2 separate regions of the Homo sapiens genome follow, and region 1 is reported to be linked to region 2. Evidence: microRNA targets listed by miRTarBase, many of them from high-throughput screens and not tested one by one. Region 2 holds a microRNA gene; the other region holds the end of a gene's coding sequence.

Evidence for each region. The annotated mature microRNA hsa-miR-432-3p reads CUGGAUGGCUCCUCCAUGUCU and lies in region 2 at 2,903-2,923, shown strand. An mRNA with a match to its seed (bases 2 to 7 or 8) in the 3' UTR can be bound and repressed. Matches are read on the target gene's strand: a 7mer-m8 pairs with bases 2 to 8, a 7mer-A1 pairs with bases 2 to 7 and ends in A, and an 8mer does both.
Region 1: the mRNA of GABRQ is a reported target of hsa-miR-432-3p. Seed matches in the 3' UTR shown: 7mer-m8 at 2,251-2,257.

Annotation. Positions count from the first base shown.
Region 1 is chrX:152,653,077-152,657,076 of GRCh38, forward strand. It overlaps GABRQ (gamma-aminobutyric acid type A receptor subunit theta), which reads left to right. Exons shown (of 9, transcript NM_018558.4): 9 at 1-4,000. The coding sequence ends at 205. All of the region lies in intron 2 of MAGEA3-DT (MAGEA3 divergent transcript), which reads right to left. Among named protein-coding and RNA genes, the nearest start is that of GABRQ, 17 kb to the left of the region's middle.
Region 2 is chr14:100,881,642-100,886,190 of GRCh38, forward strand. MIR432 (microRNA 432) reads left to right here and starts at 2,842; the gene lies at 2,842-2,935. It overlaps RTL1 (retrotransposon Gag like 1), which reads right to left. Exons shown (of 4, transcript NM_001134888.3): 4 at 1-3,233. The coding sequence starts at 3,147. MIR433 (microRNA 433) reads left to right here and starts at 245; the gene lies at 245-337. It overlaps MIR127 (microRNA 127), which reads left to right and starts at 1,338; the gene lies at 1,338-1,434. It also overlaps MIR136. RefSeq lists a silencer at 4,051-4,345.

The DNA of each region.
Region 1 (4,000 bases), not on the chromosome of region 2:
CATGGCCCATGGCCAAGAGAAGGACAGTAGCTCAGAGTCTGAGGATAGTTGCCCCCCAAGCCCTGGGTGCTCCTTCACTGAAGGGTTCTCCTTCGATCTCTTTAATCCTGACTACGTCCCAAAGGTCGACAAGTGGTCCCGGTTCCTCTTCCCTCTGGCCTTTGGGTTGTTCAACATTGTTTACTGGGTATACCATATGTATTAGTCCCCCAGTGCTCCAGAACAGCGGGAGCACTGTGCTGTGCTCCTTTCAGTTTCTTTTGGGTTTGTTTTTCCCTCTTTCCTTTGTTCCTTTTATTTTGTGGTTATTTGGGCAATCCAATAAGTTCATACTTCTCTTTATAAACATGAGGTGGGGAGTAATTGGAAAGAACATGTTCTAGCTGGAAGGGAAGGGATTGAGGAGGAGTTGGAGGTATACAGCACATGGATTTCCTTTCCTGCTAGAAGACTCTCACCTTTTCAAAGACTTGTAACAAGGAATAAGCATAGAAAAGCCCCTGGAAATGTTTAGAGGACAGAGAAGAGCCAGGTTGGGGGATGGGGCAAGGATCTGGGCCTTTTGCCCACAAACATTTCTGGGGGGCTTTTCTGTCCCCCTTGAGGTGTCAACATTTCTTTTTCATTACATGTTTTCTTCTTTTTTTGTTTCCTCCTAGGGATTATGGGTCTTGTTCACCCTCTGCTTAGGGCTTTATAGAAGAAAGTCAAGCTGGGTTGGGCTGGGGTTCATAGCTAAAGGGCTAGCCATGGCTTAGAAGTTCAGGGAACTTCCTATAGGAAACTTAGGGAGCATTTGTAAGTGCCTTTCCCCCACTGTATGGCATTTGACTGTGGTGTTTTGATGCAAGCGTGGAAGGGGAATGTGGGTGGATGGGGCTGCAGAGTGAGACATCAGGGTGAGAGAGCACATACTCAGCTTGTGGGGTTGGCAGAGGGTGGGGGGTGATGTCAGGTTGGAAATTACACAGTTGAGCTGGCCTCTTCGGAGGGATTGGAACTTGCCTATATTTCTGCTTCAGAACGCTTGGCAATAGAGACTCAATACATCTGTCTAAGTCAGGAGTTAGCTTTCCGTCAGTTGCTGAGTTGATCACCAGTTACAGCACTTGGTGAATAAGCACTAAGGTTAGGATAATTCACACTTGCTATTTTACCATCTGATCTAGACTAGCAGATGAATATCTATCGTAAGTCTATATACTAATCCTTTCTATTTGTCTAGTGCATAGTAAGTGTCAACAAGCTCCCTGACCCATTACATCACTGGAGCCTCACAGGAGCCCTGTAAGCCAGGGAAGGCAAAGCACATTGTCCCCAGTGTTCCAAGGAAAACGAATGGAGCTTATGCCGCATGCTTGAGGACATGCAGCCAGTGAGTGGTAGATCCACCCCACTTGCTCTTTCTTGTCTTTTTCCTCCTGACTGTCCCAACTGAGGCATTTCCTTTTCTTCCCTCCCTAAAGAGGGTGCTCCAGAGGGCCCCCACCACATCCTCTAGCACCTGGGGCATCTCTGCAGGAATAGGCTGGTGACCAGCCAATGAGCGTGACGTGAGCAGATGGAGAACACACTCTGCCCACTGAGCAGGGCCCCTAACGGAAGTAGGATTGGCCAGCATTCCAACTTGCCAAGCAGCTCCACCTCACTGATGGAGGTTGTGAGGGAGTGAACTTTGCCGAGCACTCAACATATGCCACCTCTTCCTCCCTATGCAGTCTCTCCCTCAGTCCCTTACCCCTCTACCCACTCACCCTTTAACTGTGCTTCTGTGTTTGTGTTTCTGTATATACCTGGGTGTATGCATATGCAGCAGGGTGGGTGTATGTACATATACAACCATTTGAGAAGCTGCATAGTGCCGTGTCTAGTGGTGTAAATCTACATTGGTGTGTACAGAATTGTATCTACAGCATGTGGATGCATGCGTGTGTGTGCACATCCCTGTGAAAGTGTGGCTTATGTATGTGTATGCTTGTGTACACATGGGTCTATGCTGAGTGCATGTATATAAGGGCATGTCTGCATATCTATGTTTATCTGATTTGAATGGGTGTGAAAGGAAATACCCCTGAAAGCATATGTATTCCCTGTTGGTGACCCTTCTAGAACCACTATAATTCCCTTGGCCTGCTCCCATATGGTGGAGGGGCCCTATTTGGCCGGGCTGCTTAACTGACTGTTTCTTTCCAACTTCCTGTTCCAGGGAGCAGCATCTCCCAGTTCCCTTCCACTGTTTGCCCTGTCCCTCCATCCATCTGTGCTGTCTCCTAGATAGAAGACTGGGGAAGTGAATGTAGTCCTAAGAAGTGGTGAGCTAGTGCCTTGAGGTAGGAAGTGGTTAATCCATGGAAGAAGCTGCAAGTACAGAGCATTTCACTTTGTCCTAGAGGAACATGTTTCGGGGTAACAGGCTGGGGAGTGAGGCTGAAAGAGGCATTGAGAATAGACACTTGTACAGTCACATACACATACACACACACAAATCTTGTACGACAGTTGAAAACAAGAAAGTTACCACTGGAAGAGCTAAAATTGCCTCTTTATTTTTGGATACCCCATACAGAGATTCAGGTGGAGGGGAGAGCAGTGACTCCATGTCTGAAGCTCCCAATGTGGCTATTGAAAGGCTGGCTTCCTGGAGCCTAAGCATTGGTTGGTTGACGTGGATTTGGGTCTCCAGCACCCTGGAGGTGCTTTCAACCCTGTGGTGGCAAGCAGTTCATTTGGGATAAAGTCATAAAGGGAGATTGGAGCAGTGTGAAGAAAAGGAGGGTTTTAAGATTTGTCTGGAAGCAATGCACATGAAGGCTTCACAGCACAGAGGAAGGGCAGCGAGGCCAGTTGTAAATATCTCTATAGATCCATATAGCTAGATATAATACTATACCTTAAAAAGGATATCTTGCCCTGACGTGCTGCAATGAGAGCAGTTGAACTCTACTGCGACTCATACTCTGTAGGTTAAGTGTCAAAATGAGGTGGAGATTTGGCAGTGACACCCTTTCGGGAACGTGAACCTTCTGAGTTTGCTATGGATTTGGTCATTTTAGCCTGCACGTTGCCAGATCTCCCCTTGTTGAGTCTTGTATGTGGTCTGTCCTCTGTGTCATTTGAGTCCTCAGCTGTCCCCAACCCCTTCCCAGCCCCTCCCCAGCCTGCAGTCACCCCCTGTCCAGCAAGCTGCCTCCATCCCATCCCTCTCCTCACCTCACACCAGGTAACTCTGGAAGTGCAGAATGCTTGGTAGTTTGGAGCTTGGGCAGCATCTGGGATGCAACAACCCCTATTTTACTCTTCTACCCACCTTCCATTTCTTTCCTTCCCATCGACTTCCCCGACCCAGGATCCCTTCTTTGCCACTATCATGGGAAGGACACCCCTGTCTGTCTTTCTGAAGTATCATTTTATTGTGGGGATGTGTGACACGTTTCCTACCAAGTTCTTGCCAGTTCCATCTGCCACTGTGGGGTGCCTTTGCACAGGTCATGGACGATCTGCTGGGTCTTACTAGAGCCTGTCAAATGTATTCTTACAATTCATGTCATCTTGTTAATAGCAGGACTTCAAAGTCTTTGCATATTTAGAGCTGAGTTTTGCTGAGACTGTGGCCATTCCTAATGAGGTTTCCTCATTCCATATATATAATAGCTAACCCTTAAAGCCATTAACTAATGAATGCATTTATTAAGCTATCCACTCGCATGGTACCCTGCTGTGGTGATGAGCAGTAACTTTCTAGCTATTCCATAGCCCAACATCAAAGGAAATCGTGACTCGTCCTACTAGAAGTGTAGTGTCTTTGTGTTTGTTGTGTAGTGTCCTGTGATCAATATAAAATCTATATTATCAGTGTTGGGTTTTCAGGGGAGGGAGGGAGAGGATGTTAAAGTCTCTCTTTGATAAACTTAAATTATGAAATAGCCCAGTTGTTCAGGGTCACTTCTATTGACTCAATTTGTGTGAGACTTTGCACTCACTATCTCGCCGGCCGGACTGC
Region 2 (4,549 bases):
CTCTTGCCGTAGGATCTGTTCATTGAGCTCATCCTGTTCTTCATTCTCTTCTTCCCCGGATTCCGTCGATGGATCCCTGGGGAATCCCCTTGAGGCCAGCAGCAGGGTTTGCCTGGCGGCAGTGTTCCTCTGGAAGGCTCTCCTCCACCGGAGGTTTCTCACAGGTGGCAGAGCTCGGCCGCCGTCTTGTTCTGGCAGCTCCATGACGTCAAAGTTGAAGTGGGAGAAGAAGAAGACCCAATGCCCGGGGAGAAGTACGGTGAGCCTGTCATTATTCAGAGAGGCTAGATCCTCTGTGTTGAGAAGGATCATGATGGGCTCCTCGGTGTTCTCCAGGTAGCGGCACCACACCATGAAGGCAGCCCGTATTGGAAGAATCTTCATCTCCGCTTGAGAGTACTCAACCTCGATAGGGGAGATGTTGCGGGAGTAGAAAGCGCAGCAGGCTCTCTTGCCGGTTTGGTCGTCGATTTGGATCAGGGAGGCGTGCAGGGCCGTGCCGGTGACGCCGGTTTCCAAGTAGAATGGGTTCTGGGGCTTGGGGTGGTGGAGGAGAGGCGCCTTGCGGAAAGCCCTCTTCAGGCACTCGAAGGCCTCTTGCTCCTCGACTCCCCAGTAGAACTGGTAGGAGCTCAGCAGCTGCCGCACCAGGGGCTCTGCGATGATGCTGAAGCGCTCCACGAAGTGGCGGTAGGGGAAGACGAATTCGATGAAGTTTCGCAGAGATAGCTTGGAGCCAGGGGTAGGGTACCCTGTTATGATGGTCATGACGTTCTTGTTCAGTTTCACCCCTTTGGGGGTGACGACGAAGCCCAGGAATTCCACGGTTTGGCGGTGGAACTGGCTCTTGTCCAGGGAGCAGTAGACGTTGTGATGGCGGAAGCGGACCAGGACTTGGCGGACGTGGTGGAGGTGCTCCTCCTGACTCATTGAGTAGATCAGGACTTCCTGGCCATAAGAAAGCACAAAGAACCCTAGCATGTCCTTTAGGATGAAGTGAATCACGTTCTGAGGTATGATAGGGTCTGGGGAGAGCGCAAACGGCTGGTAGCTCTTCATCTCTTCAAGCTCCAAACCAAACGCTGCTTTCCACACATCTTCGGTGCGGTGCCCGTTCACGCTTTCCTCCACAATGGTCCCACGCAGCTCCAGTTTTGTGAACCACTCGGCTCCGTGTAACTGGTCAAACAGTTCCGGAATCATCTGTATGTAGTCCTGTCTGTTGGTCAGCATGTCCTGCAGGTCCCAGTATTCCTCCTGTAGCCTGGCTCTTTCTTGCATCCTGGCACCCACAGGTTCCCAAGGCGCGGTGGAGGGACACTCGTAAAAGGTCTCGCTGTGATCACTGTCTCCAGCCTGCTGAAGCTCAGAGGGCTCTGATTCAGAAAGATCATCGGATCCGTCTGAGCTTGGCTGGTCGGAAGTCTCATCATCTGCTTCCTTCGGGTTAAACACGTCGGCCAGGTCTGAGTATGGGTGTGGCAGTCCGGGTAGCAGGCTCATGCCGTGCCTCTCTAGGGCAATGCATGGCGGGGGCGGGCGGAAGCAGTTCTTCAGGCAGTAGGGAGAGTGGAAGGTGCAGCGGCCTTTGATCCAGTCGACTTCGGGGGCGTGGACTCGGAGCCAGCGGATGCCTAGGACCACAGAGAAGTTCGGTGAAGGTACGATGTCAAATTCGATGGACTCCTGGTGGTTCTGGTGGATACACACCAGGGGCTCCGTGTAGAGCCAGACAGGCTCGTTGCCAATCAGCGAGCCGTCCACGGATTGGACCGGCTGTGGGTACGGCTTCTCGTAGAGCTCGACGTAGTGCTCTTGGGCGAACTTCTCATCCATGAAGTTGCCGTCAGCTCCCGAATCCACCAGGGCCTGGACCGCGACGCTGTGGTAGGGGTTCACTCTCACCATGAGCAGCAGGAAGAGGTGGGCGCGATTGATGTCCGGATGGACTTCGCTGGGCAACCAGCTGCTGACCATCCACCTCTCTGGAGCAGGTGAGTCGATCCAGGTCAGGTTCCGGGGGCGGGCCTCGGGGGGCAGCCTGAGCATAGCTCTTCTCTCTGCCAGCTTCTCTTCTATTTGCAGGATGAGCACAATCAGACTGTCTAGGGAATCCGGCTGAGGGACCCGGAATAGATAGTGCCTGATCTCCTCGTTGAGCCCCTGGCACAAGTGGGCCTGCAGGACTTCATCTGGCCAGCCCAAGATGGGTACCAGGCTCTGGAACTCATCGATGTACTCAGTGGCAGAGCGGCCGCCCTGCCTGATGGTGAACATGGCCTCTTCTGCCACACGCAGTGCCTGGCGGTACTCAAACACTTCGGACATGGCCTCCAGGAAGGCTGGGAAGTCTCCGATCAGGGGGCTGTTTTCCTGCAGTAGAGCTTTGGCCCATTCTAATGCCAAGCCGGACAGGTGATTGATGACATAGCCAACTCTCAGACGGTCGTTATAGAACATTCTTGGGTAGCTCTGTAAGGTCAGTTGGCAGAGTACGATGAACTCGTGGAATTCTCTGCGATCGCCAGAGAAGTGCTTTGGGGCGGGCAGTTGGCCTGCATTGATCCCTTTGATCAAGATCTCTTCTGCTACTCTCTGTTGCTCTTTGAGGTCTTGCATTCGGAAGTACAGCGAGATGATGGACCTCACCATGGCCATAAGTTCTGCGGTTGAGTGCTCGGTCTGGTTTTGCTCTTGAGGAGTCTCCTCCCTTCCCGATTCCTTCAGGTCAGTGTGAGCCTCTTGTTCTTCTCGGGCTCCCGATGGGTTGACTGATGCTTCTTTCATCCTATCAGATGCTCCACTGAGTGGATCCCCCCTTGCCTGGTGTGAACCGTTGCATGACTCCTCCAGGTCTTGGAGTAGGTCATTGGGTGGATCCTCTATTTCCTTACGTGGGCCACTGGATGGCTCCTCCATGTCTTGGAGTAGATCAGTGGGCAGCTCTTCCATTTCCTGGAGTGGGCCACTGGGGGGCTCCTTCTTTTCCTGGGCTGGGCCGCTGGCTGGCCCTGCCTCTCCCCGCACTCCACTGCCCGACGTCGCCTCGGTGGTGTTGGATGAGCCCTCGGAGGACTCCATTTGTTTTGATGATGGATTCTTATGCTCCATCATCGTCTCAAATGAGTCTTCAGAGGGTTCTATCATTTCGTCGGATGGAAAGGAGTGTATTCTGAAGATTGGTAAGGTTGTGATGGCGTCCAGTCAGTAGCTGGGACCGTGGAGATCAGAACCTGGTGGTGGAAGGGGAGTGTGGGGAGTAAAGGCAGTAGTTTAGGATCTTGTGAAGTGGCAGTATCAGGGTCTCAAGGACAAATCAGATGCCCAACTAATCAGAGCAGAGAGAAATGGGGGAAAGCCTTCTTGTATCGAGCCAGCCTCTTTGGCTGGTCACTTGGGGTGCCCCCAGGGAGGGAAGATCTGTCAACCCCTGACCTGCCTCCCAGGCTTATTCAGTCTGCCTGTCCTGTCCTTTTCCTCCATAGATGTGAGAAATTCACAGCCCATAAATTCTGTGGCTGGGAGCAGCCACCGTGGCAGGCGGGTACCTGGCAGGGTGCACAGGCTGCTCCATTCCCCCCTGGCACATGCACCTGGTCAATCCTCTTTTCCTGCTTTGGTCACCTGAGAATCACAGAGGTCACATCTCAGCACCATCCAAAGCCACCCCTGGCAGGCTCAGGGCTCTGGAGCAAGCCCAGCCACCTTGGTTGTGGAGCGGGAATCTCTAGCAAAGATGCCTACTGTTTCACCAGTGCAGTGGAAGAGGAGAAAATGGGCACTTGGCCACTGTCCCGTCAGTTGGGTCAGCAGCCCAAAATAGTTCTTATTTCCTTCCCCATGTTCAAAATAGAAATTTCAGGGGGTGTGTACAGGTCTGGGTTTTTTTTTTTTTTTTCCATAAATTTTATAACATACCTACTATGTGCTGGATAACTGCATATTTGTTACTTGATTCTAACTCAGACTTTTGGCCAATTTCTCTTTCTCGATTTGGTCTCCTTCCAATGCTATGTTCTCCCGACCTCTGAGCTGTTGAGGAGATCTTCAAATAATCTCCTTCTCTTCCTACAATCTCCACTCTCCCAGGACTGCCCTCTTTGTGAGGCTTCTGGAACTTCACACATCTGGCCTCAATTTCACCAGTGCAAGCATATCTGCACGCCTCTCCAATCTTATCCTCCCAGGTCCCCTTCTTAACGCCAGTGGGTCTGGTCTCCTCTTTCTAGCAAATATCTTTTTCTCTCTGTTGCTGGTTGAGCCCTCCCAACAGACATGTATCTGGCAGAGTTGGGACATTGAGTGTGGGGGTTGGGGGGAACATGTGACATCTTTGGAATCTGACGGTCCCAGAGTGGATTTTTGGAAATCTAGTGTTGGGTGGTTTTAGTGGGCTGAGACAGAATTGAAAGGGAATGTCTTGGTTGGGGTTATTTGCACATTTCTTCTCTGCTGGGGCAGAGCAAATTAAGCTTTGATTATCTGATAGATTAACTGTAAAGCTACTGCTCTTTATAAATTTAACACCTTTTGTTACTTCTGAGTTTTC